Linked DNA regions of Homo sapiens. The protein of the gene in region 2 interacts with the protein of the main gene of each other region in a pairwise test. Each region holds a gene or a part of one and is shown on either strand. Other genes may lie near its edges. The genes, in order: ZNF783 and ZNF398.

Region 1 (16,381 bases), 94 kb from region 2:
AGGTTGCAGTGAGCCAAGACTGTGCCACCACACTCCAGCCTGGGTGACAGAGTGAGACTCCGTCTCAAAAAAGAAAAAAAAAAAAGAAAAGGAAAAAAAAAAGAACATATATTGGAATAAGGATGGTTATTTCAATAAATGGTGCCAGGAAAACTGAATATCCATATGCAGAAAAATAAAACTAAACTCCTATCTCTCATCATATACAGAAATCAAATCAAAATAGATTAAAAACTTAAATATAAGACCTCGAACTATCAAACTACTACAAGAAAACATTGGGGAAACTCTCCAGGACATTGTTCTGGGCAAAGATTCGAGTACTACCCTAAAGCACAGACAACCAAAGCAAAAATGAACAAACGGGATCACATCAAGTTAAAAAGCTTCTGCACAGCAAAGGAATCAATCAACAAAGTGAAAAGACACCCCACAGAACGGGAAAAAATATTTGCAAATTATCCATCTGACAAGGGATTCATAACCAAAATATCTAAGGGGCTCAAACAAATCTATAGGAAAAAAATCTAATTACCCAATTAAAAGATAATCTGATTAAAAATGGGCAAAAGATCTGAATAGATATTTCTCAAAAGATGGCATACAGCTTGGGCATGGTGGCCCATGCCTCTAATCTCAGTGCTTTGGAAGGCTGTGGCAGGAAGATTGCTCGAGTCCAGGAGTTCAAGACCAGCCTGGACAACATGGCAAAACTCTACCTCTACAAGAAATACAAAAATTAGCTGGGTGTGGTGACACATGCCTCTAGTCCCAGCTACTTGGGAGGCTGAGGTGGGAGAATGGCTTGAACCCAGGAAATCGGGTGCAGTGAGCTCTGATTGTGCCACTGCACTCCTGTCACATCTGGGCAACAGAGTGAGACCCTATCTCAAAAAAAAAAAAAAGTACAAATGGCAAACAGGTATATGAAAAGGTGCTCAACATAATCGATCATCAAAGAAATGCAAATCAAAACTACAATGACATATCATCTCATCCCAGTTAAGATGTCTTTTATCCAAAAGACGGGCAATAACACATGCTGGCGAGGATGTGGAGAAAAGGGAACCCTCGTGCACTGTTGGTGGGAATGTAAATTAGTGCAACCACTATGGAGAACAGTATGGAGGTGCCTCAAAAAAACTAAAAGCAGAACTACCACGTGACCCAGAAACCCCACTGCTAAGTAATACCCAAAAGAAAGGAAATCAGTGTATCAAAGAGGTATCTGCACTCCCATGTTTACTGCAGCATTATTCACAATAGTCAAGATTTGAAATCAACCTAAGTGTCCATCAACAGACAAATGGACAGAGAAAAGGTGGTACATATACACAATAGAGTAATACTCAGCTATAAAAAAAGAATGAGATCCTGTCATCTGCAACAACATGGGTGGAACTGGAGGACATCATGTTAAGTGAAATAAGCCAGGCACAGAAAGACAAACTTTGCATGTTCTCATTCATTTGTGGGAGCTAAAAAGTAAAACAATTGAACTCATGGAGACAGAGAAGTTGAATGATGGTTACTGAAGGCTGGGAAGGGTTGGGGGAAGGTGCGAGGGGGGAAGTAGAGATGGTTAATGGGTAAAAAATATAGTTAAATAGAATGAATAAGATCTAGCATGTGATAGCATAACAGGGTGACTACAGTCAACAATAATTTAATTGTACATTTTATAATAACTAAAAGTATAATTGGAATGTTTATAATACAAAGAAATAATAAATGCTTGAGGTATGAATATCCCATTTACCCTGAGGTCATTATTACACATTGTATGCCTGTATCAAAATATCTCATGTACCCCATAAATATGCACACCTACTATGTACCCATAAAAATTAGAGATTAAAATAGAAAGAGTTCTAAAGGAAAAAAAAAACTCATCCACACTCAGTAAGAGAGGTGCCATTAAAACTACACTGACAGACTTCTTACTATTACACTGAAAAGAATCCTACAAGTTTGCCCTCTGTTGGCATGAGAACCTTTCTCACAACACAGATGAGAATGCAAATGATACGAGCCCTATGGAGGGGAATTTGGAGATAAATTCTCCCCAAATAACATATTCATTTACCTTTTGACCCAGAAATCCAACTTCCAGGATTACATCTCAAAGATACATTGGGGCTAGGCACAGTGGCTCATATGTAATCTCAACACTTTGGGAGGCTGAGGAGGGTAGATCACTTGAGGTCAGGAGTTAGAGACCAGCCTGGCCAACATGATGAAACCCCGTCTCTGCTAATACGAAAATTAGCCAGGCGTGGTGGCGCACACCTGTGGTCCCAGCTACTCCAGAGGCTGGGGCTCCAGAATCATTTGAACCCAGGAGTCAGGGATTACAGTGAGACGAGATCGTGCCACTGCACTCCAGCCTGGGCAACAGAGTGAGTGAGACTCCTTCTCACAAAAAATAAATTTAAAAAAAAGATACGTTGGCAAAAACATGAACTGATTTATGCACAACGTACTCCCTGCAGCATTATTTATATCAGCAAAATACTGGAAATACCCTAAATGTCCAAGGTACAGACTGTTAAATAAACTATCATACCACAGAACATTCTGAATCCACAGAAGAACTGAGGAAGATCTGTACATAATCATATGAGGTGATCTCCACAACCTACTGAATAAGACAGGGGTGGGAATACAAATATATCTCTGTGTTATTGAAACATGGTAGTATAAATAAGAAAGGAATCAAGATGATTATCTATAGTGAGAGGCCACAAGGATGGAAACGAGACTTCCTTGAATCTACCCTGTTAAATCATTTTGACTTCGCAAACATAAAATATCTTACATATTCAAAAAATTAAGTTAAATCAAAAACCAAAAAGAATAATCAATAAAAAATCTAAAAATACACAAATGAATGCAACTGTATACCAAGCTGGTGACATAACTACATAGAGAAAATATTTCAAGTGACTTTAAAAGGCATTATTTTGCCCATAAGTCCTGCATAGAATGTATACAGAGGACAAAAAGAACTGCAAAGAAATCTTGTATTTCAATGGAAGTCTAATTGTTAATAGTATTATGGCTTCACTGTTTTGAAATTGTAAGATAAATTATAGGATAATGAAGTGGTAGGACTGGATATAAGATCATTTAAGAAATTATGCAAATTTCGTTGAGAATTTAAGATTGCCACCTAAAAGGAAAGTGATAAACAATATAAAATCAAAGAGCCAGGCTGGGCGCCGTGGCTCACGCCTGTAATCCCAGCACTTTGGAAGGCCGAGGCAGGCAGATCATGAGGTCAGGAAATCGAGACCATCTTGGCTAACACGGTGAAACCCCGTCTCTACCAAAAATACAAAAAATTAGCCAGGCGTGGTGGCGGGCACCTGTAGTCCCAGCTACTCAGGAGGCTGAGGCAGGAGAATGGCATGAACCCGGGAGGTGGAGCTTGCAGTGAGTGAGCTCGCACTCCAGCCTGGGCGACAGAGCGAGGCTCCGTCTCAAGAAAAAAAACCAAAGAACATTAAATTTGAATTAGAAATATCAATGTATAAACTCATGATTTCTTTTTTCTTTCCAAAAATATGTATTTTCTGAACAGGCCTAGAAGTAGTGCCAAAAATCAGCAACAATTAACACTCACATTGTAATCTCTAAATACCACTCCTCACCAATAGAAATCAAAAATCCAGAGACATTTTGATTCCAGGTCTGGAGCAGGAAGCACACACATAAATCTGGCACACCTTATGGTGTCTGAAAGCCACTGAGGTCACATCAGAATAACCTATGGGCCAACTTAAAAAAGAGGCTCCCACTAGCTAAAGATGGGACAGTTTAAGCAGGAAAATCATGGCTGCAAAGGCCTAGCACATATGAAATATCCAATTATCTGTGAAGTCACAATAACTTAACTCAGGAAAAAAAAGAAGCCCAAGTCATGGGTCACCTTTGGAGGCTACTAAGGCAGCAACTCTTCATTCATTCTGAAACTGATAAAGGAAAGAATTAAGCATCCATTCTGCCTTTTCAGTGCAGACTGAATCTCAGGGTAACTAAAAAAGCTGACTAGCATTTTCGGAGGCAAAAGTAGGTGGACTGCTTGAGCCCAAGAGTTTGAGACCAGCCTGGGCAATATAGTGAAACTCTGTCTTTACGAAAAAATACAAAAATTAGCCGGATATGGTGGCGTGCACCTGTAGTCTGACTAAAAAAAATGCAATGGTGAAAAGACTCCCTTCCCTATTCAATAAATGTTGCTGGGGTAAGCCATCCCATTACTGGGTATATACCCAAAGGATTATAAATCATGCTGCTATAAAGACACATGCATACGTATGTTTATTGCAGCACTATTCACAATAGCAAACACTTGGAACCAACCCAAATGTCCAACAATGATAGACTGGATTAAGAAAATGTGGCACATATACACCATGGAATACTATGCAGCCATAAAAAATGATGAGTTCATGTCCTTTGTAGGGACACGGATGAAGCTGGAAACCATCATTCTCAGCAAACTATCGCAAGGACAAAAAACCAAACACCGCATGCCCTCACTCATAGGTGGGAACTGAACAATGAGAACACATGGACACAGAAAGGGAAACATCACACACCAGGGACTGTTGTGGGGTGGGGGGAGGGGGGAGGGATAGCATTAGAAGATATACCTAATACTAAGTGACGAGTTAATGGGTGCAGCACACCAACATGGCACATGTATACATATGTAACAAACCTGCACATTGTGCACATGCACCCTAAAACTTAAAGTATAATAATAATAAAATTTAAAAAAAATGTTGCTAGGGTAACTAGCTAGACATGTGCAGAAGAATGAAGCTAGACCCTTACCTTTCACCATATGCAAAAAGTAACTCAAGATGGATTAAAGATTTAAATGTAAGACCTCAAATTATAAAAATTCTAGAATAAAACCTAGGAAATACCCTCCTCGATATTGCCCTTGGCAAAGAATTTTTGGCTAAGTCCTCAAAAGCAACTGCAACAAAAACAAAAATTGACAAGTGGGACCTAATTAAACTAAAGAGCTTCTGCAGAGCAAAAGAAACTACCAACAGAGTAAGCTGACAACCTACAGAATGGGAGAAAATATCTGGAAACTATGCATCTGACAAAGGTCTAACATCCAGCATCTATAAGGAACTTAAATCAACAAGCAATAAATGGGCAAAGGACATGAACAGACATTTCTTAAAAGAAGACATGCAAGCGGCCAACAAACATGAAAAAATGCTCACCATCACTAATCATCAGAGAAATGTAAATCAAAACCATGAGATACCATCTCACACCAGTCAGAATGGCAATTATTAAAAACTCAAAAACCGTCAGATGCTGGTGAGGCTGTAGAGAAAATGGAATGCCTATACACTGTTGATGGGAATGTAAGTTAGTTCAGCCACTGTGGAAAGCAGTTTGAAGATTTCTCAAGGGACTTAAAACAGAACTACCATTTGACCCAGCAATCCTGTTACTGGGTATATACCCAAAGGAAAATAGATCATTATACCAAAAATATACATGCACACGTATGTTCATCACAATGTTATTCACAATAGCAAAGACATGGAATCAACCTGGGTGTCCATCAGTGGTGGACTGAATAAAGAAAATGTGGTACATATACACCATGGAATATTACATAGCCATAAAAACGAATGAAATCATGTCCTGTGCAGCAACATGAAGCTGAAGGCCATAATCCTAAGTGAACTAATGCAAGAACAGAAAACCAAATATTGCATGTTCTCACTTATAACTGGGACCTAAACAATGAGCACACATTGACATAAACCTGGCAAAAATAGACACTGTGGACTACTACAGGGGGAAGGGAAAGAGAGGAGAATGGATTGAAAAGCTTGGGTACTATGCTCACTACCTGGGCACAATATACCCATGTAACAAACCCGCAGGTGTATGCCTATATCCAAATTAAAAGTTGAAATTTTTTTTAAAAGTACTCAATTGTACACTTTAACAGGTGAATTATATAGTATATGAATTATATCTCAATAAAGCTGTTGAAAAAGACTGGGGGGATTGTCATAAGTTTTTTTAATATACTTCAGAGACGTAAACCAAATGTAAAATGTGGACTTGGGTGTATTACAATTAGGATCCAAAGACCCATAGAAAACATTTTTGAGACAACTAGGGAAAACAAAACAAAGGCTAGGTATTAGATGGTATTAGATGATATTCTGATATTCTGTGGGTGTGATCATGGTATGTGGTCATTGTTCAGGAAAAGGGTAAAAACAGATGGATGAAGCGCATGTGGCAAAACCCAGCAGAGTGTTGAGTTTTGGTGACGATCATTTGGAGATTCGCTGTGCTATTCTACTTTATTAAAATTTAATTGAAAAAATAAAGCTCCCCAGAGGATTGTGATGTGCAGTCCCCTTTGGAACCACTGTCCTATATACCAGCTACAAGGACAGGGCATGCCTGGCCCTCCTACCAAGGGCCATGTACACAAATGGAAGCCAGCACGTGACATGCCTTCCTGCCACAGGCTGGGGTTGTGGGACTGCAATAGGGGACACAAGCAATAGCGGGGACATGGACACACGTGAAGATGCCAGGAGGCAGCAGTGCTGCTGGTGGAGGTATTACTAAGTCCCCATTATTTTTTTTTTTAGATGAAGTCTTGCTCCGTCACCCAGGCTGGAGTGCAGTGGCGCAATCTCGGCTCATTGCAAACTCCGCCTCCCGGGTTCACGCCATTCTCCTGCCTCAGCCTCCCGAGTAGCTGGGACTACAGGCGCCTGCCACCACGCCCGGCTAATTTTTTGTATTTTTACTAGAGAAGGGGTTTCACTATGTTAACCAGGATGGTCTCGATCTCCTGACCTCATGATCCGCCCGCCTCAGCCTCCCAAAGTGCTGGGATTACAGGCGTGAGCCACCGCGCCAGGCCAGTCTCCACTATTATAAAGTGATCAGTATGTACATGCTTAACACTTATCACTCAGTCATCACAACCACGTAAGGTGAGTGTGATGTTCCACCTTAGACAGATATAGAAACCCTATGGCTCAAGCCAGCCACCCACTCCTGCCCAGGGTGGCCTTGTACAGAGTGGTCCCACTTTGGGTTAATGGTCTATGCTCCCTTCCTGCCCTCCCTGATTGTCTGGGAAGCCCGAGAGGGTAGGCGATGGTGCAGCTAGCCCCTGGCGGCCCCCCAACCACATCTGGCTCCTATACTTACCAGTGCCCATCATCCTTGGACGTCCCACCTCTACTTCATTCCCCTTCTCCTGGCCCCACCGGTCAAGACAAGGCTCCTCTCCCCTCTCTATCCGGGTGAGGATGTCTGGTTTGGAGATTGCATAATCTGTGCACAGAACAAGAAATGAGGAAGAGCTGGACCCCACATGCCCACAGAGATGCAGAGATGCCCAAAGTACCAAAAGCCAAAGCAAAGACACAGACTGTCCACAGACAACCTGTGGACAGAGGCCCAGATCCTCCCTCCGTGGCCTTACCCAGGGAGACCAGCGTCTCGTAGTTGCCCCTCATCACGTGCTTGTAGAGCTCCTTCTGCCAGTCCTCCAGCTTGCCCCACTCCAGCTCAGAGAAATACACGGCCACATCATCGAAGGTCACGGGCACCTGGAACCATAAGTGTCGCACTCACTCACCCACACGCTCACAGGCTCAGCCCCTCGAGCTCCCCCACCCCAGGGTGTCCCGGTGCTACCTTGGGGGCCTCCCCCTTGCTGCCCGGGGGCAGCCGCAAGATCCAGAAGTTCCTGTTGCGCAGCAAGTTCTCCACATTCTCCAGCCGCCTCTGCAGCAGCCCGTACTCCTGCAGCAAGGTCCCCAGCACGGCCCACTTGCCCTCCAGCTGGTTCCCGAACTCCACAGCTGTCTTCTCGCAGTCGGCCAGCTTCTTCTCGGCTGTCCCCGTGCGCCCCTCCAGAGTCAGCAAGCGGGTCAGGCAGGAATCCACCTTCTTCTCCAAGGCCTGAATGGCGGCCACCACCGTCCACAGTGTGATTTCCGTGGAGTAGAGGTACGAGTTCTTCTCAGCAGCTGGCTGGGGCAAGGGTGTCGAAGGACTCTGGTCCTCTGTGTGCTTGTCTGTCTCGGGGTCCTGCTCACAAGAAGAGAAAAGAGAGATGTTATGAGAATTATACAATCAAAACTTCCACCTCAAAAACACACTTCGGAAATGACACCTGCCATGGTAAAGTCCCATCTGGGCTCCTGAGTTAGCAGCAGACTGGGGGGGAGAGGGAGAGGCTAGGGTATCAGTTAGGAATCCAGCCTAACTGATACAAGAGATAGTGGCTGGACCAACGTGTCAGCAAGTGGGAAAGTGGAAGAAAAACAGCCCCGGCTCCTGTCCTACAGGCTAGCTATGGAGACGGGGCATGCCCCACAGGCTTGAGCAACCACGTGCAGTCTCAAACAAGTGACTCCCCTTCTTGGGTCTCAGTTTCCTCTTCTAAAAATGAAAGGACAAGGCTTTGTGGCACAGAGAACATGACTCCCCAGTGGACAGCCCAGGTGCAACTCAGCTCTGCCACTTACAAGCTGGCCAACTGTGGGCAAGGTGTTTTCAACAGCTTCCAACTTCCCTTCCCTATCTAGAAAATGGAGATAATAATAGTACCTATACAATAGCACTGAGAGAATTAAGAAAAATCTGTGTACAAAGCACTTAGTACAATGTGTAGCACAGCACAGATAATAAACATGAGCCCCATGTTGCAGGGCTAAGATGACACTGACTGCTATGGAATGAATGCTTGTGTCTCCCTCAATATCCATCTGCTGAAGCATTAATCCCCAATATGCCGGTATTTGGAGGTGGAGCTTCTGGGAGGCAATTAGGCCATGAAGGCAGAGCCCTCATAAATAGGATTAGCGCCCTTGTAAGAGGAGACACAAGGGAGATGATCTTGCTGTATGCCACGTGAGGATACAATGAGAAGGCAGCCGTCTGCAAACCAGGAAAAGAGCCCTGCCGGGAACCAAGGCAGCCTGAGCAGACTGAGACAATGACAGTGATTATGGTGATGGTTCCAGCTCAGGGATATGGTATAAATAGTTCATATGGCCTTTTTTTTAACCTCCACCTCTTTTATTCCATTGTCCTTCAGTGCCTTGGAAAAAGCTTCTCAAGTGCCTCAGCTTACCCTGGTATCTGATTCACAAGCCCTCATTGTGCATGCGCAATGGGCACAGTCCTGGTTGGTGCTGCTAAAAGCCTTGTTGGAGAGACAAATCAACATCTCACTCCTCAATTTCATTCATCCTTCATGGTTAAATCACCATCAGGTCCTAACTTCCAAAATTACCTCAAATCCATCCATGTTTCTCCTTCTCCACTGCCAGTGTCTAGTCCAAGTTCCCATCACCTTGCTTGGCCTGGGCCACTGCGGTCCTGCCCACCTGATTTCCCCACTTCCAGCCTTCTCCCCCACTTCCAGCCTTCTCCCCCACTTCCAGCCTTCTCCCCCACTTCCAGCCTTCTCCCCTACTTCCAGGCTTCTCCCCGACAATACACTTTCCACAGAGTAATTGTTAATCTTTTTTTTTTTTTTTTTTTTGAGACGGAGTCTTGCTCTGTCGCCCAGGCTGGGGTACAGTGGCGCAATCTCGGCTCACTGCAACCTCCACCTCCCAAGTTCAAGCGATTCTCCTGCCTCAGCCTCCCAAGTAGCTGGGACTACAGACGCCCGCCACCACACCCAGCTGATTTTTATATTTTCAGTAGAGACAGGCTTTCACCATATTGGCCAGGCTGGTCTCAAACTCCTGACCTTGTGATCCGCCCGCCTCAGCCTCCCAAAGTGCTGGGATTACAGGCGTGAGTCAGTGAGCCACTGCTCCCGGCCTGGTAATCTTTTAAAAACACAAATAGATCATTTCAGTACCCTGCTTAAAACTCTTCAATAGCTTCCCAGTGTACCTGGCATAAGATCTAGACTTCTTCATGGCCCAGCCGACCTCTCTTGACCTTGAGCCATCCAGTTCCTGTCGTGCTCCAGCCATGCCAGCCTCCTGTGGATTCCGAGGACCCACCCGGCCCTCCTCCAACTTCACATCAGCTCTCAATATGCATCCTCTGTATGCCTGAGTCTCTCTCGTTTTTAAGATTCTAGCATAGACAACGCATCCTAGAGATTTTCACTGCCCCTCCCCCTTAGCACTAGTAATCTATAATTGCTTCATTCATTCAATAACAATTACTGAACACCTATCATAGTAAATGTACAGTGAAGATGAAGAAAAAACTGATGTGGTTCTTCCTTCTCCAGGAGAAAAATTCTGTATAGGAATACTTATAAACAACAACAGTGTGATAGGATGGGCTAACAAGAGTCCAGGGCAAATCTGTCCCTTTTGGGGAGTTTTTTGGGATCTCAAGTGCTGCAAGAAGGGAGGAGCAGGTGGACAGGAGTGATCTGAAAGGTAGTGAAGCAGTGAGCCCCAGGCTAGGGGGAGTGGATGATGTCACCTTCTAGGGCCCCCTCTTCCCAGGGAACAGGACTATAAACCTGCAGAATCCTCAACGCTTTTTCTCTCCCTTGCACTCAGGGAACCCAAAAAGAAGCTCAGCACACTCACTAAGAGGAGGGAGAGGAAGTTATACTTTAATAAAAGTATCCAGAAAAATCAAGGTTTCAAAACCTTCACTGAGGTGTATTAATAATAGTAGGTATCATCTATTGAGCCTTTACAAGCGTTTTCCAGTATGTCAAAAATGGCCAAAGGATTATAATCTCCCAATTGGACATACTGCACTATATCAAACCAAGATTCTAAAATCTGCTAAACTGGCCTAACTTATATAGATGAAGATGCCAAAAAAACTGATGTGATTCTTCCTTCTCCAGGAGAAAAATTCTGTATAGGAATACTTATAGTGTATTCTTATGAATAAACTTATTCATATAGATATGTATCTGGACAGATAGATAGATAGATATAAATGAGACAGGCACCTGCGCCTGTAATCCCAGCTACTTGGGATTGGGAGGCTGAGGCAGGAGAATACCTTGAACCCGGGAGGCAGAGGCAGAGGTTGCAGTGAGATGAGATCCCGCCACTACACTCCACCCTGGGTGAGAGTGAGACTGTGTCTAAAAAAAAAATATATATATATATATATATACACACACACACACACACACACACACACACACACACACACGTATATATATATACTTTTTTAATTAAAAAATTTTAAAATGGCCGGGCGCGGTAGCTCTCGTCTGTAATCCCAGCACTTTGGGAGGCCGGGGCGGGCAGATCACGAGGTCAGGGGTTCGAGACCAGCCTGGCCAACATAGTGAAACCCAGTCTCTACCAAAAATAGAAAAATTAGCCAGGCGTGGTAGCAGGCGCCTGTAGTCCCAGCTACTTGGGAGGCTGAGGCAGGAGAATCCCTTGAAGCCGGGAGGCGGAGCTTGCAGTGAGCCGAGATCGTGCCACTGCACTCCATCCAGCATGCGCAACAGAGCGAGACTCCCTCTCAAAAAAAAAAATTAAATAAAATCTGCTACAGTAATCTTTTTTAAAAAAATCTACTATCTCTCTTGTAAACGACACAATCTTTCTCTTTGGCAAAAGTAGAATATGAGGCGTTTTAAAGTGTCTAATTCCAAAATCCCTGCCCCGGCGTGAGGCTCCCGCCTCTAATAGATGCGTGACCCTGGGCCTGTCCCTTCCCATCTCAGCCTCCGCTACTGTCCCGTGGGGCTGGCGGCCCCTGCCCGCCCAGCCTGCTGTAGGGGGGGCCGCGAGGCCTCAAATGGGACAATACTCCTAAGGCGCGGCCTCCTCGTCGCCGAGCGTGACTCTGGGGCCCGGCCTGGCTGAGGCCGCAGATGGGCCGGATCGTCAGCCGCTGACGTCGGGGCCCCGCCCGCCGGGCCTGGCATTTGGGCCGCCCGGTCAATGCCTTCGACGCGGGCTGGGCGATGGGCCGGGGGCAACGAGCGCGGAGGCTGCGCGCAAGGCCCTCTCACCCCGCGGCCTCGCGCGGCCAGAGTCCCTCGCGCGGGCTCACGCGGCGGCGGCCTGGGCCTTCCGGGCGTCCGCGGGGCCGAGGGCGCTTACCCGGGCAGGCGCCGCTTCGGCCATGGCTGCCCGCGTCCCTCGCTGGGTTGCAGTCCCTGGACCCGGCCTGTCGGGCCCGGGGCGGCGCGGCAGCGACGGCGGAAGCGGAGCGGGACCCGCCTAACCTGAGAGCTACTGCCGGGCGGCAGCGAACTGCGTCCCGAGCCACGTGCCCCGCTGGCCCTTTAAAAAAGAGCTGCGCTCGGCGGCCGAGCTTGAGGACGCGCACAGCGCCCCCTGCAGCCCGTAGGACCGCACGCCCGCGGCCGCCGCCCCGCGCCCTCCCGAGGCCTTCAGCGCCCGCGGCGTCCGGGACCCAGGCGCGGCCACCCACCCTCACCCGGGGCGCGGGAGTTGACGCCAGGGCGGGCGTGCCACGGCCTCCAGCGGGGCTACGTCAGGCGTAAGCCACTCCCGGGCCAGCGCGGCGCCCAACCTCTCTCTGCGTCCCACGCGGGAGCCGGGAGGGCTGCGGGAAGGAACCGCGCTGGAAAGTGCGAAACCTCGCGAGGGAAAGCTGCGTGGGGAACGGGGTCGGCCCTCGCCGGGGCTCCAGTCCGGACCGAGACTCTGTTGCAGCGCCTCCCACGCACCACAGAACTGAGTTGGGGAAAGTAAAAAGGATACGTGTGTACCCAGGGAGAAGCCAGGGAAACTTACATGAACGTTTTTAAAGTCTCTTTTAAATTTGACAGAACAAACGTGAAGATGGTAGGATTTTTTTTTTTTTTTTCCTAAGCCTGCCCTCCCCTCCTGAGGACTCTGGGGTCCCTTCCTCCTCCCGGGGCCCGCCTGGTGAAAGTCCTCAGCCACCCACGAGGACCCTTCTGTAGCTTTGGTCCAGGCTGAGATCACAGCAAGTGTGAATCAGTCCATCCCTCATTTAGGCCCTGAGGCATCTTGAATAAACCGCAGGACCCATTTTCCTCGGCCTGTGCTGAGGCATATTGAACTAAATGTGCTGTATGCAGTTGAAGCTTTGTTTTCTGTCTTTTCTGCATTTCCCATTCATCTCACAGTCTTTGTCCAACAAGCTGGCAAACTCTTCCCGCTAGAAATCTGCAGTTTTGTTTCTTTCTGTGTTTGGGTTTGTTTGGGGTTTTTTGGTTTTGGTTTTGTTTTTTCTTTTTTGGGGGGGGGGGGTGAGGGTGAGAAGTTATTTTCACAAATATTTGAGCCAAGCAAAAGCGTGGTCAACTATCAGAAAAAACACAAACTGATATCCTAAGTAAGGTGAACCCCAAAATTTGCGGAAAGGTTAGGACGTGTTACTTTAAGGTAACAAATCAAATAAATATTTGGCATTATTCATTTTGGAAATTCTTGTTGAACTATCCCAATCTAAAACACAAACTGCAAGTATGCACTAAAGACATTAAGAGCATCCCTAGGATCTTATCAGGGATCAGTCCAATCTATTCAGGATTATAAAATACCAGTAAATGGTGACGTTATAGAATAACAGTTAAGGTCCAATGCAAACAGAAAGGGTCAGGAAAATGGGCCAGGAGCCGTGGCTCATGCCTGTAATCCCAGCAGTTTGGGAGGCTGAGGCGGATGGATCACCTGAGGTCAGGAGTTCGAGACCAGCCTGGCCAACATGATGAAACCCCATCTCTACTAATACAAAAAATTAGCTGGGTGTGGTGGTGAGGTACTCTGGAGGCTGAGGCAGGATAATCGCTTGAACCCGGGAAGCAGAGGTTGCAGTAAGCCGAGATCATGCCATTGCACTCCAGCCTGGGCAACAAGAGCAAAACCCCATCTCAAAAAAAAAAAAAAAGAAAAAGAAAGAAAGAAAGGGTCAGGAAAATGGGCTGGAGACAAAAATGCTAGGATTTAATGAGCTCTGTTGAGGAAAGAGTGCTATAATGTTTGACAGCTAGTCTTCGTTTTTTAGAAAAAAAGTTTCTCTAAGTCAGTGGTACTCAAACTTCAGTGTGCATCATGTTCACTGAGGGTTCTTGTTAAAAATACAGGATGCTAGGCACAAACCTCAACATTTCTAGGTCTGAAACAGGAGGGGATGAAAGTGATGCGAATTTGCAATTCTAACTAGTTCCCAAGAAATGCTGATTCTATTGGTCTGGTGATCACAGTTCGAAAACCTTGGCACTGTTTATCAGGGTCCCACAGCTACCTCCCATTCCCATGCTCAGATTTTATAAATATATTTAATAAACGAACACTTTGCACCATAATGTGGTTTCTGAGCAGACCAGCCGGGGTGTCAAGCCAGCTCTGATATAAATTAAAATTACATGGTGGCTTTTTTTTTTTAAGACGGAGTTTCGCTCTTGTTGCCCAAGATGAAGTGCAATGGCACGATCTCGGCTCACTGCAACCTCCACCTCCCAGGTTCAAGAGATTCTCCTGCCTCAGCCTCCCGAGTAGCTGGGATTACAGGTTCCTGCCACCATGCCAGGCTAATTTTTAGTATTTTTAGTAGAGACGGGGTTTCACCATGTTGGCCAGGCTGGTCTCAAACTCCTGACCTCAGGAGATCCACCCACCTCGGCCTCCAAAAGTGCCGGGATTACAGGCATCAGCCACCACGCTCAGCCTACATTCATCTTTAATTGTTAATCTGTCTCTTGTGAGTTTGTTTTTTGGGGGATCAGATTTCCAGGACCTGATTATCTCTGGGTGAACTGACAACATCCAGTGGAGGCCCAGTCCGTGGAGTAACAAGGGTGACTCCACCTGCAGAAGGTAGGGTTGTCACAATTTGAGGGCCACCAAAGTAGTACCCAGGGTCACTCAACAAGAGGTCAGCACACTCAAGTGCCATTGTCCCCACCAGAACATCCTCAGCCAAGAGATAGTGGCAGGTCAGAGACAGAATTCCTGTGGCTCCCTCATCCTCCAAGCCAGGAATGTAATTTAGATTAGGAGGTGGACCCACACAGAATTATAAAGATGTTAGGAACGGAAGCATTAGTAGAGGGAGACCAGAAGTACAGCCAAATCCCACTTCCTCCATAGAAGCCTTCTCTATTTCAGACAACACCCAGCTCTCTATTCTGTGAACACCCATTATACTTTCTCATTCAGCAAACATTTGCTGAGCACCTATGTGCCAAGCACCTGTGCTGAGAGCTGTGGAGGCTGATAGGAGTAAGACATGGTCCCTCCTGAGGCCAGGCGCGGTGGCTCACGCCTGTAATCCCAGCACTTTGGGAGGCCGAGGCGGGCGGATCACGAGCTCAGGAGATCAAGACCATCCTGGCTAACACGATGAAACCCCGTCTCTACTAAAAATACAAAAAATTAGCCGGGCGTGGTGGTAGGCGCCTGTAGTCCCAGCTACTTGGGAGGCTGAGGCAGGAGAATGGCCTGAACCCAGGAGGCGGAGCTTGCAGTGAGCTGAGATGGCGCCACTGCACTCCAGCCTGGGCGACAGAGCAAGGCTCCGTCTCAAAAAAAAAAAAAAAAAAAAAAAAATGGTCCCTCCATTCCCACAGCATCACATCCTGTGACTGTTTCTTGGTCTTATCTATTGTTCCCTTCCCACTGCAGCTGCACCCAATCAGGTAGGTCCTCACTGGCTCTTCCTTGATCTCACTTGAAACCTTCTAACATATCCCAAACCTCACACCCCCCAAAAAGCACAGTATAATTCTTATTAGTATTCCCAAATCACAGCTAGAATCAGGTCACTCTTTTGCTCAAAATTCTTCAGCTCCCCATTATCAACCGAATAAAATCCAGACTCCTTGAAGCCTGACCCAACTCTTAACACCCACTACTCTCCTTCTCACACTCCACCCTCCCGAAATTGGATGAACTCCTCTTCTGTACATGTCCCATAATGTCTCCTGACTTGGTCATGTCACCTCCATTTAGAATGTCCTTCCTCCCATCCTTAAAAGGCCAGTTCAAATACCACCTATCACGAAGTCTTCCCTAATGTCTCACATCTAAAATAATTGTTCTCTGAATGCTTAAAGCCTTTTACCCTCACTTATCTGAAGACATTACTATTCTATCTTATATTCCCTTAGTAGCCTGTAAGTCCAAGAGCAAGATTTATCCCTGTACCCCTCTGTAGAATTCTGCACAGGGAGGATACTCAGATATTTGTGAGTGAACAAACTCTAAGGCAGAATGGAATACTGTCCTCACCTAGGAAAGGGCTGTGCAAAGGTGCAGTAAAGGAAGAAAACTGATTTTGAAAGAACATAAACTCAATAAGGGCAAAGATCTTTTTTTTCATTGATGTGTATTTAAAATAGTGTCTAGATAACAGGGACTCAATATGTATTTGTTCAATGAAAGAAATGGATGAG
Region 2 (16,254 bases):
CTCCCCACCCCACTCCCACGTTTTCTACCCTTTCTACATGATTTTCAAATCGTCTTCTGTCTTTCCCCATCCCCATAATTTTGGTTCGTCTGTATGCACTTGTTTTTCTTCTTCTGACAATTCTCATTTGTCTTTGCATGTAAGAGTGTATTTTCTCACTCACTTCAAATTTATCTTAGTGACTGTTTGGTTTCATTCATAATGTTGAGCATGGCTTTTTCTTTCCCTCATTCTTCTCCCACATATTTGCCTCTACAAATTTCACCTGCTGTTTCTTCAGTCAGTCCTGGCATGAGCTGGATATGGACATGAACACCTCTTTAATTTCATACTCACCAGCATAAGTGCTTTTGTACACGTCACTCTCCTTGGACTCCGGTGGGGCCCCAACCTGAGGCTCTTCTTCTTGTTTAATCCAAGACAGAATATCTGATGTTGAAATACCAGGCTCTAATTTGTGGGAGGAAAAAAAAATGGCCTTCATGAACTTGAATAAGAAGGTAAGATAATCAAGTTGGTTTGCTGAACACTATATTTTGCCCCAAATATTTTTCCTTTCTTTTTTTCTTTTTTTGAGACAGAGTCTCGCTCTGTCACCCAGGCTGGAGTGCAGTGGCACGATGGCTCACTGCAAGCTCCGCCTCCCAGGTTCAAGCCATTCTCCCCGCTGCCTCAGCCTCCCGAGTAGCTGGGACTACAGGCGCCTGCCACCACGCCCAGCTAAGTTTTTTTTAAATTTTTTTGTTTTTAGTAGAGATGGGGTTTCACCGTGTTAGCCAGGATGGTCTCGATCTCCTGACCTCATGATCCGCCCACCTTGGCCTCCCAAAGTGCTGGGATTACAGGCTTGAGCCACCGCGCCCGGCCCCAAATATTTATTTCTAAATAACTATAACAATAACACAGAACCAGCCTTTTAAAAAATGCATACAGGATGGGTGTGGTAACTCACGCGTGTAAGCCCAGAACTTTGGGAGGCCGAGGCAAGTGGATCATTTGAGGTCAAGAGTTCAAGATGAGCCTGACCAACGTGGCAAAACCCTGTCTCTACTAAAAATAAAAAAAATTAGTCAGGCGTGGTGGCAGGCGCCTGTAATCCCAGCTACTCAGGAGACTGAGGCAAGAGAATTGCTTGAACCTGGGAGGCAGCGGCTGCAGTGAGCCGAGATCGCACCATTGCACTCCAGCCTGGGCAACAAGAGCAAAAAAACTCCATTTCAAAACAAACAAACAAACAAAAAACAAATCAACTTCCAGAATTACAAAGTTAGTTCAGTATAGACACAGAATCCAACTCCCTAGAAACACACTTTTCAGATTCCCAATTCTGGGCTCTTTCTATGAGATATATTATCTTTGTCTATTAAATGATACAAGTCATTGTTTCCTAAATGCTGGGAGGGGGAAGAATATAGTATTGGCAAGTCCTTCAGGTCTTGGGGGTTCTTTCTGAAAGAAAAAGTGCACAGCCAATATCGGCTTTGCACACAACATGCCTCATCTGATCAGTACCAAAACAGCTGTGCTAGCTATTACAACCTAGGCCTATATGGCTTTATTATTTTTTTTTTTTTGGACTAAATGGACAAGTTGGCAAGCTGACAAGAGAGCTTGTCAAGCTCCAGAGAGTCCCCTGAAGCTCTCTATAGTTATTTCTCAAACACAGCCTTGTGGGCAGAATATGGTTTAATTCACAGCAAATTAACAGAACTGACTACTTTACCCAATGTCTTCTAAATCAGTTAGACGCCACTGAAATCTAAAGGTGTTCTCAAAGCAGAAATAAGAGGCTGGGGTAAGACGAAAGCCCAAACGACCATCGGTTATGGGGAGCGATTTGGGAAATAGATTTTAGCATATGCAACAGTTGCCTTGCCAACCTCCTGTTCTGACCTAAAAGAAAAGCTGAAGTGTATTAAACATAGTCCAATCTTATCTTTGTTCTCTTCCAGATGTTATACACATACATATCTATAAGGAAAAAGGCAGAGGGGGGGAAAGACTGGATATAAGGAAGAAAACCTCTGAACCGATATCCAGAGGATTAACTTTCCATTCAAAACATCTGACTTTTGTTTGTTTGTTTGTTTTTGAGACAGGGTCTCACTCTATCACCCAGGCTGGACTACAGTGGCGTAATCTTGGCTTACTGCAATCTCTGCCTCCCAGGCTCAAGCTATTATTCCACCTCGGTCTCCCTAGTAGCTGGGACCACAGGTGTGTGCCACCATGCCCAGCTAATTTTTTGTATTTTTGGTAAAGATGGGGTCTCACTATGTTGCTTAGGCTGTTCTTCAACTCCTGAGCTCAGGTGACCCACCTGCCTCAACCTCCCAAAGTGCTGGGATTATAGGCATGACCCACCATGCCTAGCCAAAAAACCTGACTTTTAAAACACTTACCTGCTTGTTTTTAAAAATTTTCTGAATGGGCTGGGCACAGTGGCTCACGCTCATAATCCCAGCACTTTGGGAGGCTGAGGTGGGCAGGTCACGAGGTCAGGAGTTCAAGACCACCCTGACCAACATGGTAAAACCCTGTCTCTACTAAAAATACAAAAATTAGTTGGCTGTGGTGGCACGCGCCTAGCTACAATTACTTGAGGAAGGGGGCTACACTAAACAACAAATTTTCATGTATGAGAAACAACTTTCTATTGGAAGAATATGTCATCTGGGACTTTCATAACTAGAGAGAAGTCAATGTCTGGCTTCAAAGGACAAGCTGACTCTCTTGTTACAGGCTGATGCAGCTGGTGACTTGAACCCGGTGTTCATTTTAGTATTCTGAAAACCCTAGGGCTCTTAAGAATTATGCTACATCAGGCCGGGCATGGTGGGTCACGCCTGTAATCCTAGCACTTTGGGAGGCCAAGGCGGGCGGATCACCTGAGGTCAGGAGTTTGAGACCAGTCTGACCAACATGGAGAAACCCTGTCTCTACTAAAAATACAAAATTAGCTGGGCGTGGTGGTGCATGCCTGTATTTCCTAGCTGCCCAGGAGGCTGAGGCAGGAGAATCGCTTGAACCCAGGAGGCGGAGGTTGCGGTGAGCCGAGATAGCGCCATTGCACTCCTGCCTGGGCAACAAGAGCCAAACTGTGTCTCAAAAAAAAAAAAAAAAAAAAAAAAAGAATTATGCTAAATCTACACTGCCTGTGCACTAGAAATGGAACAACAAAGCCTGGATGACAGCACATCTGTTACAGCACGGTTTACAGAATATTTTAAGCCCACTGTTCAGAACTACTGCTCAGAAGAAAAAATTCCTTTCAAAATACTAGTGCTCATTGACAACGCACCTGGTCACCCACAAGCTCTGATGGGGATGAACAAGGAGATGAGTGTTGTTTTCATCCCTGTAAAACAACATCCATTCTACAGCCCCGCAGATCAAGGAGTAATTTTTACTTTGAAGTCTTATTGCATAAGAAATTTATTTCAGCATCAATGCACTCCAGCCTGGGTGACACAGCTAGACTCTGTCTCAAAAAAATAAATAAACATATTTCAGCCAGGCATGGTGGCTCACGCTTGTAATCCCAGAACTTTGGGAGGCCGAGACGGGTGGATCACCTGAGGTCGGGAGTTCGAGATCAACCTGGCCAACATGGCGAAACCCCGTCTCTACTAAAAATACAAAAAAATGAGCCAGGCATGGTGGTAGGCGCCTGTAATCCCAGCTACTCAGGAGGCCGGGGCAAGAGAATTGCTTGAACCTAGGAGTCGGAGGTTGCAGTGAGCCGAGATCGTGCCACTGCACCCCAGTCTGGGCGACAGAGCAGGACTCTGTCTCAAAAAAAAAAAAAAAAAAAAAAAAAAAAATAGAAATTGCCACAGCCACCCCAACCTTTAGCAACCACCACCCGGATTAGTCAGCAGCCATCAATACTGAGGCAAGACCCGCCACTAGCAAAAAGATTATGACTCTGAAGGTTCAGATGATTGTTAGGATTCTTAGCAATATTTTTAAATTAAGGTATGTACATTGTTTTTTTAGACATAATTTATTGCCAACTTAATAGACTGTATAGCATAGTGTAAACTTAACTTTCACATGCACTGGGAAAACAAAAGTTATTGTTACTTGTACTGTGATATTCACTTTATTGCAGTAGTCTGGAACTGAACCCACAATATCCTGGAGATGCCTGTACTTGCCTTTAATGCTGTTTCCATATTAACTAAGTATTTATCACACACTGTGGCCGTAACTTTTGCAGTTTGAGGTGCAACAGTAGCACTAGTACAAATTTCTTTTACTTTCTTCACAGTTTCACAGATAGAAGATTTGTTCTTACCAGAGATCTTGGCAACCTCAGCATGTAACTTCCTTCCTTCCTTATTAAGTCAAGAAATTTCACCTTTTCACATAAAGGAAGCACTTGACGGCTTCTCTGATACATCTGAATTGCCACCATTACTACTTTTGCAGTTTGGGGCAATTATTTATTTTTAAAAAGGGGGGGAGCGCGGGGTACTTAACATAAGCACTGCAATACTGCCACAGTTGACATAGCTTCTAAGTGACTAATGGCCAGGTAGCGTATACAGTGTGGATGCACTGGACAAAGGGATGATTCACGCCCCAGATGAGACAGGGCAGGATAGTGCAAGATTTCATCATACTACTCAGAATGGCAAACTTAAAACTTATAAATTATTTCTGGAATTTTCCATTTAATATTTTCAGATCACAGTTGACGGCAGGTAACAAACTGTGGAAAACGATACCATCAATAAAGGGGGACTACTGTATGTAGTCTCTATGCTGATACAAAACTTCCCCTAAATGATGAGTGGTTGGCTGTACCTAACTGCAGTCACGTACCATGTAACATTTGTATAGTAGTACAAAGGTTTATATTTGTGCTGAATATAAGGACAGTTTTGAGCAAGACACATGGAGTCATGCACTGCATAATGGTGTTTTGGTCAAAAACAGGCCACTGTCGAGCATGGTGGCTCACATCTGTAATCCTAGCACTTTGGAAGGCCAAGGCAGGCAGATCACTTAAGTCCAGGTGTTTGAGACCACACTGGGCAACATGGCTATACCCCATCTCTATAAAAAAATAAAAAAATTAGCCAGGTGTGGTGGTTTGAGCCTACAGGCTATTTGGGAGGCTGAGGCAGGAGAATCACTTGAACCTGGGAGGCGGAGGTTGCAGTGAGCCAAGATCACACCACTGCACTCCAGCCTGGGCTACAGAGCAAGATTCCATCTCAAAATAAATAAATAATAAAAAGTAAATCCCAGCACTTTGGGAGGCCGAGGCAGGTGGATCATGAGGTCAGAGGCGGGTGGATCATGAGGTCAGGAATTTGAGACCAGCCTGGCCAACATGGTGAAACCTCGTCTCTAATAAAAATGCAAAAATTAGCCGGGCGTGGGGGCGCAGCATGCCTGTGATCCCAGCTACTGGGGAGGCTGAGGCAGGAGAATCACTTGAACCCAGGAGGCAGAAGTTGCAGTGAGCGGAGACTGCGCCACTGCAATCCAGCCTGGGCGACAGGGCAAGACTTCATTTCAAAAAAATAAGTAAAAAAATTTAAAAATAGGAAAAAGTTATAGAAAAAGGGTATAAAGAAAAAATATTTTTGTATATATGTACAATATGTTTTACACTAAGTGTTATTACAAAAGTCAGAAAGTTATAAAATAATAAAAGTATATTACTATATTATAAAGTAGTATTATAAGTATATTACTGTATTATAAAGTAATACAGTAAGCTAAGGTTAATTTATGGTTAAAGAAAAAATTTCTTGGCCAGGCGCGGTGGCTCATGCCTATAATCCCAGCACTTCGGGAGGCCAAGGTAGGTGGATCATGAGGTCAGCAGATCGAGACCATCCTGGTTAACATGGTGAAACCCCATCTCTTCTAAAAAAAAAAAAAAAAAAATTAGCCGGGCGTGGTGGCACGTGCCTGCAGTCCCAGCTACTCAGGAGGCTGAGGCAGGAGAATCACTTGAACCCAGGAGGCTCAAAAAAAAAAAAGAAAAAATGTTTCTATAAATTTAGTGTGGCCTAAGTATACAGTGTTTATAAAGTCTACAGCCTAGTAATGTCCTAGGCCTTCACATTCACTCACTGACTCAGTGAGAACAACTTCCAGTCCTGCAAGCTCCATTCATGGCAAGTGCCCTATAGAGATGTACCATTTTGTATTTTTTTTTTTGAGATGGAGTCTCGCTCTGTTGCCCAGGCTGGAGTGCAGTGGTGTAATCTCGGCTCACTGCAACCTCCGCATCCTGGGTTCAAGCAATTCTCCTGCCTTGGCCTCCCGAGTAGCTGGGACTACAGGCGCCCACCACCATGGCTGGCTAATTTTTTGGATTTTTAGTAGAGACAGGGTTTCACCGTGTCAGCCAGAATGGTCTCTATCTCCTGACCTCATGATCCACCCGCCTTGGCCTCAAAGTGCTGGGATTATAGGCATGAGCCACTGTGCCCAGCTCATTTTGTATCTTTTACACCAGATTTTTGCTGTACCTTTCCTATCTTTACATGTGTTTACAAACACAATTACCATTGTGTTACAATGGCCTACAGTATTCAGGACAATAATATGCTGTACAAGTTTGTAGCCTAGAAGCAATAGGCTATACTATATAGCCTAGGTACATAGAAAGCTACATCATCTAGTTTGTGTGAGTTCACGCTGTGATGTCTGCACAATGACAAAATCAACTAATGATGCATTTCTCAGAAGATATCCCCATTGTTCAGCAGCGCATGATTGTGTTTGTCAAACAGTGTGGTATATGCAGAACACGTGCTTTCCTTCTATGAGTCTGGAATTTGGGTAAGTGCTAGACAGAGGGTATGCATGTGATTAGCCCCCAATAAAAACCTTGGGCACTGAGTCTCTAATGAGCTTTTCTGGTTGTTACAACTCATTACTGGAACAATTAAGCATATCCTATAAGACTCCACTGGGAGAGGACTCTGGGAAGCCTGTCCCTGGTTTCCTGCAGACTTTGTCCCAGGTACCTTTTCCCTTTGCTGATATTACTTTGTATCATTCTAACAAATCTTGCTGTGAGTACAACCATATGGGAATCCTGTGAGTCCTCCTAGCAGATCACGAAATCTGGGAGTGGTCTTTGGGCCCTCCAACAGAGCCAGGAGCATATTTTTTTTTAAGAAAACAAGTACTGAGGTTGGGTGTGGTGGCTCAGGCCTGTAACCCTAGCACCTTGGAAGGCCGAAGCAGGTGAATCACTTGAGTTCACGAGTTCAAAACCAGCCCGGGCAACATGGCAAACCCCCATCTCCACAGAAAATACAAAAATTAGCCAGGCATGGTGGTGTGTGCCTGTAGTCCCAGCTACTTGGGAGGCTGCGATGGGAGGATGGCTTGGGCCCAGGAGGCACAGGCTGCACTGATCTCAGATCATGGCACTGCACTCTGATCATGGCACTGCACTCTAGCCTGGGCAATAGAGCCAGACCTTGTCTTAAAAACAAACAAACAAACGAAAGAAATTGTGAAGCTGACAATTTGATCAACCAACAGAAAATAACAGGCCAGGCACGGTGGCTCATGCCTGTAATCCCAGCAATTTAGGAGGCCGAGGTGGGTGGGTCACCTGAGGTCAGGAGTTCAAGACCGGCCTGGCCAACATGGCAAAACCCCATCGTTACTAAAAATACAAAAATTAGCTGGGCATGGTGGCACATGCCTATAGTCCCAGCTACTCAGGGGGTTGAGGCATGAGCATCTTGAAAACCCATGGTAAAAACAAACTGACAAGATAACAGCAAAATGAAACTTTGATACGTTATCACAAAACCTAATTACTTGTTATCTTTTTCACCCATCCCATAAAATACAATGATATATTCATTTGTACTTGCTGAGGTCTATGACAGATAACTAATAATGTAGACCAAAGAAATATACCCAATAAGAAATCTTTCTGTAGTCAAGTCACTCATCTTTATTGGTGGTATTATTTTAGCCTCATTACTTATATCTGTGATATAAAGATTAGTAAAATGCAACGTGTTACACTGACTAAATGCAATCACCTACACATTCTTAAAAAATAATATGGCCGGGCGTGGTGGCTCACTCCTGTAATCCCAGCACTTTGGGAAGCCAAGGCGGGTGGATCACTTGAAGTCAGGAGTTTAAGACCAGCCTGGCCAACATGGTGAAACCCCATCTCTACTAAAAACACAAAAATTAGCCGGGCGTGGAATCCCAGCTACTCAGGAGGCTGAGGCTGGAGAATCACTTGAGCCTGGAAGGCGGAGGTTGCAGTGAGCCAGGATCACGCCACTGCACTCTAGCCTGGGCGACAGAGTGAGACTCCATCTCAAAATAATAATAATAATAATAAATGTGAGGCAGATGTGTACATTGCTTAAAACTCAATTAAGACTTGAAATTTCATTATATGTAAAATTTACCTGAAAAGAAAAAAACAAATATTGAACTCTAGGTTAATAATATTCATGCTGAACTATTTACAGGAAAATGCATTGATGTCTTCACTGATTTTGAAATACATCAAAAATAGGATAGATGGCTGGGTGCGGTGGCTCATGCCTGTAATCCCAGCACTTTGGTAGGCCAAGGCAGGCAGATCACTTGAGGTCAGGAGTTCGAGACCAGTCTGGCCAACATGCTGAAACCCTGTCTCTACTAAAAATACAAAAATTAGCCAGGCGTGGTGGTGGGCACCTGTAATCCCAGCTACTCAGGAGGCTGAGCCAGAGAATCACTTTAATCCAGGAGGTGGAGGTTGCAGTGAGCCAAGATCGCACCACTGCATTCCAGCCTGGGCGACAGAGTGAGACTCCATCTCCAAAATAAATAAATAAATAATAGACGGATGGCTGGATGGAGTGATGCAGTGATAGATATATGCATGATAAGGAAGGATGGTATAATGTTAGTGGCAGAATTTAGGCGCTGGATATCCAGGTGTTCACTATAAAAATATTTTAACTTTTCTGATTGAAAATTTTCATAATAAAATGTTAGAAAAAAATAAATGTGGCGGTGGCTCAGGCCTGTAATCCCAGCACTTTGGGAGGCCGAGGCGGGTGGATCACGAGGTCAGGAGATCAAGACCATCCTTGCTAACATGGTGAAACCCCATCTCTACTAAAAAATAGAAAAAATTATCCGGACGTGGTGGCGGGCGCCTGTAGTCCCAGCTACTTGGGAACCTGAGGCAGGAGAGTGGCGTGAACCCAGGAGACGGAGCTTGCAGTGAGTCGAGATCGCATGAGCAAGACTCCGTCTCAAAAAAAAAAAAAAAAAAGAAAAGAAAAAGAAAAAAATAACTATATGGGATAGCGGGTGGGTTGTAAGAGAAGTTCATATAATAGAGATGCCCGGAGGATCAACTTTCTGTGTGCTTCTATCCATCAAAGAACAAAAAAGTGTATGAGAATTTTCTGACAGCAAGGTGAGGCATGAGAGAAACAATAAAACTGGACTTTGGTTGGCAGTCTTTCCCACACAATGTTAAGCAGCTGCCAACCAAAAAGTTAGGAAGAGTTCATGATAGCCAGCTTCCCAGACCTGAGAAAATCCATGTTGCCCAGGTGGATGTCATCAGTGTCTACTGGTTCCATGCATCTTAGAGGGACCATGCAGACTCCTAGTCCCTTCAGCACTTATGAAGGGCCATGCTTATATTTGCTCAAGCCAATTTAGTCCAGATGAGCATGACTGCCTCCTTCATCATGTAAGGACATGTTTATTTTATTAAACAGCTAGGTGTCAGTACTTCTGTCAGGAAATGCAACTTGTAACTGTTAGGTGTGTAGTACTGATAGGTGAAGACACTGGACAAGGTGACCTCTAAGCTCCCTTTTATATTTAAATGCCTGATGACACATTCAAAATCTAGTTGCTTTAGCAATGAATGGCTCTAGAAGCCCCTAAGCCCTGCTTAGCTCTGAGCCACCATGTCTGACCAGGAAAGGGAGACAAGAAGTAGGAATCTCTTCTCCCACTTACCTTCACTGGGGTCTGTGGGAATCTCACTTTCCTCTGGCCCTGCCTGGTCCTCTGTATTATGTTCCCCTTCTGGTTGAATCTGAGATAAGACATCAGGTTGATTTATAGCATAATCTAGGAGAGGAAAAAGGAAGAGAGAGTATTACAAAGAGATAAATGAGGATGACAACTAATTGCCATCAAGGCTGAGCTGAAGCTTTGTGGTCACAGTGCCAGGGAATTTCTTTTAGATTTCATATCACTTCTTCCCATCTATCCATCTTCAGCTGTGGATATCTATTCAGGAAAGCAGGCAGTGGAGATGTAATGTGTGGGGAAAGCACATGTGCTAGGTTAGCACTGCTTTCAGAGTGACAGTGTGCCTCAAGGGGGAGAAGTCAAGCTCCTTTCCAAGTGAAGGATACCCATGGAAACCACCAGCTGTCACACCCATAACCCTGAACTTCATTCTCTGTCCTACAATTTGGTAAAAAGAGAGATTATGATTCCTAGTTAGCAAGCATTAATTGGTCATATTTTGGCTTGAAACCAGAATTTGAAGTGTGTGAAGACAGAGTGAGAATGAGGTCACTGGAGGAAAAGGGACTGTTCTGAGCCCTCTTGGAGCTGCTGTCACTTCATTCAAAAGGTGTCAACTCAGCCTCACCCATGGAGATGAGAGACTCGTAGTTGCCCTTCATGATATTCTTGTAAAGTTCCTTTTGCCATTCTTCTAATTTTTCCCACTCTGGAGTGGAAAAGTAGATGGAGACATCATCAAATGCCACAGGCACCTAAAATTACAATCACATGGGTTAGTCCCTTCCATTATAATTCAGTCATTCAATAAATCTCTTTCCAATTAGTTCCTTTTATTTTTTTTACATTTTCAAAGGGTGGTCAATAAATATTCTAAATATCTCTGAAATGGTTTCTTTTAATGCTTCACTTGTCATTAGAAAATCCTAAAATCCTAGTACTCATGCAATACAGCACGAGTCCCTTAAATAAAGCTGGTACCTTTTCTTGAGGCACATTCGAGTATTTTGGTAAGCAGTAATAAAATATCTAAATACCATGTATGTTAAAACTTCAAGCTTTATTGAGTCTTTGATTTCACCTCTTTTAAAATGCCTTTTCTCTAAGAACATCACTCTCCAGGAGATCCAAATTCCTCTATTTGTTTTCTTTGTGTTGTTTCTAGTTCCTCTAGTCTTTTGCCAAGTACAGAGTTCCCTTTGATGCTGTTCATCGTGCACATGAGGAGGAAAGGATAATACCATGGCTGATGACTGAGAGCAAACAGGATTGATTTTGGAGGCATGTTAGGAACCAAAATTAAACTTCAAAATTCATTATGTCTTCTGTGTGTATCCTTTAGTCTTTTCTGAAGCTTTGTACATTCTTCAAATGGAACATTTTGTCTATTTAAAACCCAATTTTCTGTTTCCATTTCTTCTCTACCTGCCTCCAAGATTTACACCTTGTCCTGCCATCTCTTCAATTGTTTTCACGGCAAGATTTCCTGTTTTTCTGGGCAACTGCAGCTCACTGCAATTTCTCTTTAGCTTGACTGTACATTTCCCTGAGATACATTCATGAAGCATATGCTTTTCTTCTAACTGCTGTGTCTGTTCTTTTTCCAATGTCTTTTTGACTTCTAGTTAGACTTTCTCAGCTTGATTTCTTATATTTCAGCATTCCTGTTTTAATGTCTCCATCGTTTCTTTCAGCATTCGGTTCGAACTCTGCAAGTGAGGTAACTTGGATCTGAAAACTACTGATTTACTATTCCAGGTCAAAATTTTCGTTTTTTTCTTCCTCTGCATTTTCTTTCTTTCTTTTCTTTTTTTTTTTTAGAGACAGAGTCTCGCTGTACACCCAGGCTGGAGTGCAGTGGCGCGATCTCGTCTCACTGCAACCTCTGCCTCCCGAGTTCAAGCAATTCTCCTGCCTCAGCCTCCCAAGTAGCCAGGATTACGGGCACCCGCCACCACACACCGCTAATTCTTGTATTTTTAGTAGAAATGGGGTTTCACCACGTTGGTCAGGCTGGTCTCGAGTTCCTGACCTCGTGATCCACCTGCCTCAGCCTCCCAAAGTGCTGGGATTACAGGTGTGAGCCACCGTGCCCGGCCTCCCACAATTTCTTTTCACACTGATGCTTTTCACATTGCTTGCAGACATCATGATCCACTTTCATTTTCTATCTGCTAACTTGTTTTCAAATTCTAGCTTTTCATCCTGTAATGCCAGAAGTCTTTTACAACCTTCTTCCTTGGCATCTGGTGCCTTACATATTAATATATGATCTTTTTTTACTAAGGGCACTTTGTGGTGTTCAATAGCTGGTCTCAGAATTTCATTGTCTGACAGTAAACCATCCAGTTCACTTTGAATCTTTTTCCTTTCCCTTTCTAGCTCACTCTTGCTGCCTCTAGTTTCATGGCTGTTATTTCTAGTATGCTTGAAAGTTTCGTTCTTTGACTTTAGTGCTCAGTGTATTTCTTTCTTTCTCTTTTTTTATTTTTATTTTTATTTTTTTGAGACGGAGTCTTGCTCTGTCACCCAGGCTGGAGTGCAGTGGTGCGATCTTGGCTCACTGAAAGCTCTGCCTCCCGGGTTCACGCCCTTCTCCTGCCTCAGCCTCCCAAGTAGCTGGGACTACAGGCGCCCACCACCACGCCCGGCTAATTTTTTGTATTTTTAGTAGAGATGGGGTTTCACCGTGTTAGCCAGGATGGTCTCGATCTCCTGACCTTGTGATCTGCCCGCCTCGGCCTCCCAAAGTGCTGGGATTACAGGCTCAAGCCACTGCGCCCGGCCCTCTTTCTTTTTTTAAGATGGAGTCTTGCTCCATCACCCAGGCTGGAGTGCAGTGACGCTATCTCGGCTCACTGCAACCTCTGTCTCCTGGGTTCAAGCAATCCTCCTGCCTCAGCCTCCCAAGTAGCTGGGATTACAGGTGCACACCATCACGCCTGGCTCATTTTTGTATTTTTAGTAGACACGGGGTTTCACCATATTGGTCAGGTGGGGCTCGACTCCTGACCTCAAATGATTCACCTACCTCAGCCTCCCAAAGTGCTGGGATTACAGGCGTGAGCCACCGCCACCACTCCCAGCCTGGTCAGGGTATTTCTTTCTTGTTCAGTTTTATGTAATCTTTAATGATTAAAAAGGTACTTTGGCCAGGCGCAGTGGCTCCTAGAACTTTGGAAGGCCAAGGCGGGTGGATCACCCAAGGTCAGCAGTTTGAGGCCAGCCTGACCAACATGGCGAAACCCTGTCTCTACTAAAAACACAAAAATTAGCTGGGCTTGGCCGGGCGCGGTGGCTCACCTGAGGTCGGGAGTTCAAGACCAGCCTGACCAATATGGAGAAACCCCGTCTCTACTAAAAATACAAAATTAGCCAGGGGCGTGGTGGCACAGGCCTGTAGTCCCAACTACCTGGGAGGCTGAGGCAGGAGAATCGCTTGAACTCGGGAGGCGGAGGTTGCGGTGAGCCGAGATCACACCATTGTACTTCAGCCTGCACGACAAGGGCAAAACTCCATCTCAAAAAAAAAAAAAAAAAATTAGCTGGGCATGATGGCGCATGCCTGTAATCCCAGCTACTCAAGAGGCTGAGGCAGGAGAATCGCTTGAACCTGGGAGGCGGAGGTTCCAGTGAGCTGAGATCACGCCACTGCACTCCAGCCTGGGCGACAGGAGTGAAACTCTGTCTGAAAAAAACAAACAAACAAACAAACAAAACAGGTATTTTGTTCATTGTTTGATTGTGGCTCTTTTTCCGAGCATTTAACCTACAGTTTACGTGACATTTTTGGCCTACTGGGACCTGACTGTAACTGCATCTCAGCCAACTGTCACACCTGTATTCTTAGGACGTTTTCTAACTGAGCACCAGAATTCTCTTTTTCAGCCGTTAAATCTGCTACTTCAGCCTCTGAATGAATATATATATATTTTTTGAGACAGACTCTCGCTCTGTTGCCCAGGCTGGAGTGCAATGGCACGATCTCAGCTCACTGCAACCTCCGCCGCCCCCCTCCCCCCACCCAGGGGTTTGCCATGTTGGCCAGGCTAGTCTCAAACTCCTGACCTCAGGCGATCTGCCCACCTCGGCCTCCCAAAGTGCTGGGAGTACAGGCGTGAACCACTGTGCCCAGCCAGCCTATGAATTATTTTAATTTCTGAAACAAATGGACTTTTTCTCAAACAAGTTCCTCTACTCATTTGTTGCCTCTTGTGGGATCAACACTAAGCAGCTGGTTATATAGTTCTACATCTTTCCCCAGTCTTGCAATCTATAATTCAGGCCAGGTGCACTGGCTCATGCCTGTAATCTCAGCACTTTGGGAGGCCAAGGCAGGAGCATCACTTGAGGTTAGGAGTTCGAAACCAGCCTGGACAACATAGTGAGATCCTGTCTGTATAAAGAAATTTAAAAATTAGCCAGCTGTGGGGCCAGGCACAGTGTCTCACACCTGTAATCCCAGCACTTTGAGAGGCCGAGGCGGGCGGATCACGAGGTCAGGAGATCGAGACCATCCTGGCTAACATGGTGAAACCCTGTCTCTACTAAAAATATAAAAAAATTAGCCAGGCGTGGTGGCAGGCGCCTGTAGTCCCAGCTACTCGGGAGGCTGCGGCAGGAGAATGGCGTGAACCCAGGAGGCGAAGGTTACAGTGAGCCGAGACTGCGCCACTGCACTCCAGCCTGGGCGACAGAGCGAGACTCCGACTCAAAAAAAAAAATTAACCAGCTGTGGTAATGCACACCTGTAGTCCCAGCCACTCGGGAGGCTGAGTCAAGAGTCTCACTTGAGCCTTAAGGCTGCAGTGAGCCAAGATAGCACCACTGCACTCCAGCCCAGGCGAGAGCAAGACCCTGTCTTGAAAAATATATAAATAAGTAAAAATAAAAATAAATCTCTAATTCAAATTTTAGAGTTTTTTTCTAAACTACATGTAAATTCTTCTTCCTAGTGTTTCAGATTCTATTTAAGAAATGTATGTTTATAGCAAAGCTTGCAGCTCTATACTTTTCCACTTCTTCATCCCAATTGCAAAAACACTGGAGTTTCTAATTCTTGCTGTATTTGGGCTTTTAACAATTCCCCTTTTTTTTTTTTTTTGGAGTTAATTACCTGCAGCTTCATTTCTTCTAAGTCCTTAGCTTTTCTACTAATTCCCCTCTTAGTTCTTCAAGCAGGAGCTGAAGTTTTTCCTGGTATGTTTGCTTTTCATTTAATAGGCACTTGAGTACTTTTTGCGACTTTATGTACTCATCCTGCCACCTTGTATGCTTGTATGTTAGGCATTCAGAATCTGGTAACTAGTTGTTTTTGGTTTTGGTTTTGTTTTGTTTTGCTTGTTTTTAAGACAGGGTCTCACTCTGTCATCCAAACTGGGGTGCAGTGATGTGATCATTGCTCACTATAGCCTCGACCTCCTGAGCTCAGGTCATCCTCCGATTTCAGCTTCCTGAGTAGCTGGGACGAGTCAGGAAGTGACATGCCACTATGGCGAGTCAATCTTTAGAAACATAATTTTTGTAGGGATGGGTCTGGCTATGTTGCCCAGGCTGGTGTCCTACACCTGGCCTCAAGCAATCCTCCAACCTCAGCCTCCCAAAGCCCTGGAATTACAGGCTTGAGTCACCACACCTGGCCTAAAAACTAGTTTTTGCCTTTCCTCAATATTTTTTGGAAGTCAGGTTGTCAGCCCATTGTCTCTACTAGGAAAGAAAAAAGTTAGGAAAAGATCCTGGTGGCAAGGAGCCAGAGCAAAGAGGAGGAGGGATAGACAGGGTGAGGAGGTGGTGGTGGGACAGGGAGAAGGCAGGGCAAAGAGGAGGAGACACAGTGCCAAAGGGGCGCTGGGGAAATCTGAGGAATCCTGGGAGAGCTCCAAGGGTCAAGAGGGCAGCGTTGGGGAAAGCCCACCTCCTCCTGACAGGCCTCCTTGGGGTGCAGAGCAGAGACACCACCTCAGCCAGCAGCCCGCCCCCACTCTAGCCCCCTCAGTCTAAAAATCTTTACTGTTTACTAAGTGCCTCCTGACTGAGAAAACTATATGGGGTACTGAAAGGATACAGGAAAAATAAGGCACAGACCAATCTCTAGGAGTTCACAATGATTTCAAGAAGAAAGGTGATAATCTAAAGCTGTGAGCTTCTGGAGGGTGGAGGACTCAGAGTTACTCAGAGTTAGATACAAATGCAAAGCATACTTAATTCACACAAGAAAATATTCTGAGTATCCACTACATACAAGGTTTT

The links.
Region 1: the proteins of ZNF398 (region 2) and ZNF783 interact in binary tests that used the Homo sapiens proteins (3 or more experiments, as listed by UniProt).

Annotation. Positions count from the first base shown.
Region 1 is NC_000007.14:149,258,069-149,274,449, reverse strand, and holds the start of ZNF783 (zinc finger protein 783), read right to left. Parts: upstream 12,255-16,381; 5' UTR 12,117-12,254; coding exon 12,093-12,116; intron 11,979-12,092; exon of another isoform or gene 9,940-11,978; intron 9,422-9,939; exon of another isoform or gene 9,383-9,421; coding exon of another isoform or gene 9,326-9,382; intron 8,116-9,325; coding exon 7,720-8,115; intron 7,632-7,719; coding exon 7,505-7,631; intron 7,354-7,504; coding exon 7,228-7,353; intron 1-7,227. UniProt on the Homo sapiens protein: May be involved in transcriptional regulation.
Region 2 is NC_000007.14:149,160,664-149,176,917, reverse strand, and holds part of ZNF398 (zinc finger protein 398), read right to left. Parts: intron 10,761-16,254; coding exon 10,634-10,760; intron 10,102-10,633; coding exon 9,988-10,101; intron 451-9,987; coding exon 337-450; intron 1-336. UniProt on the Homo sapiens protein: Functions as a transcriptional activator.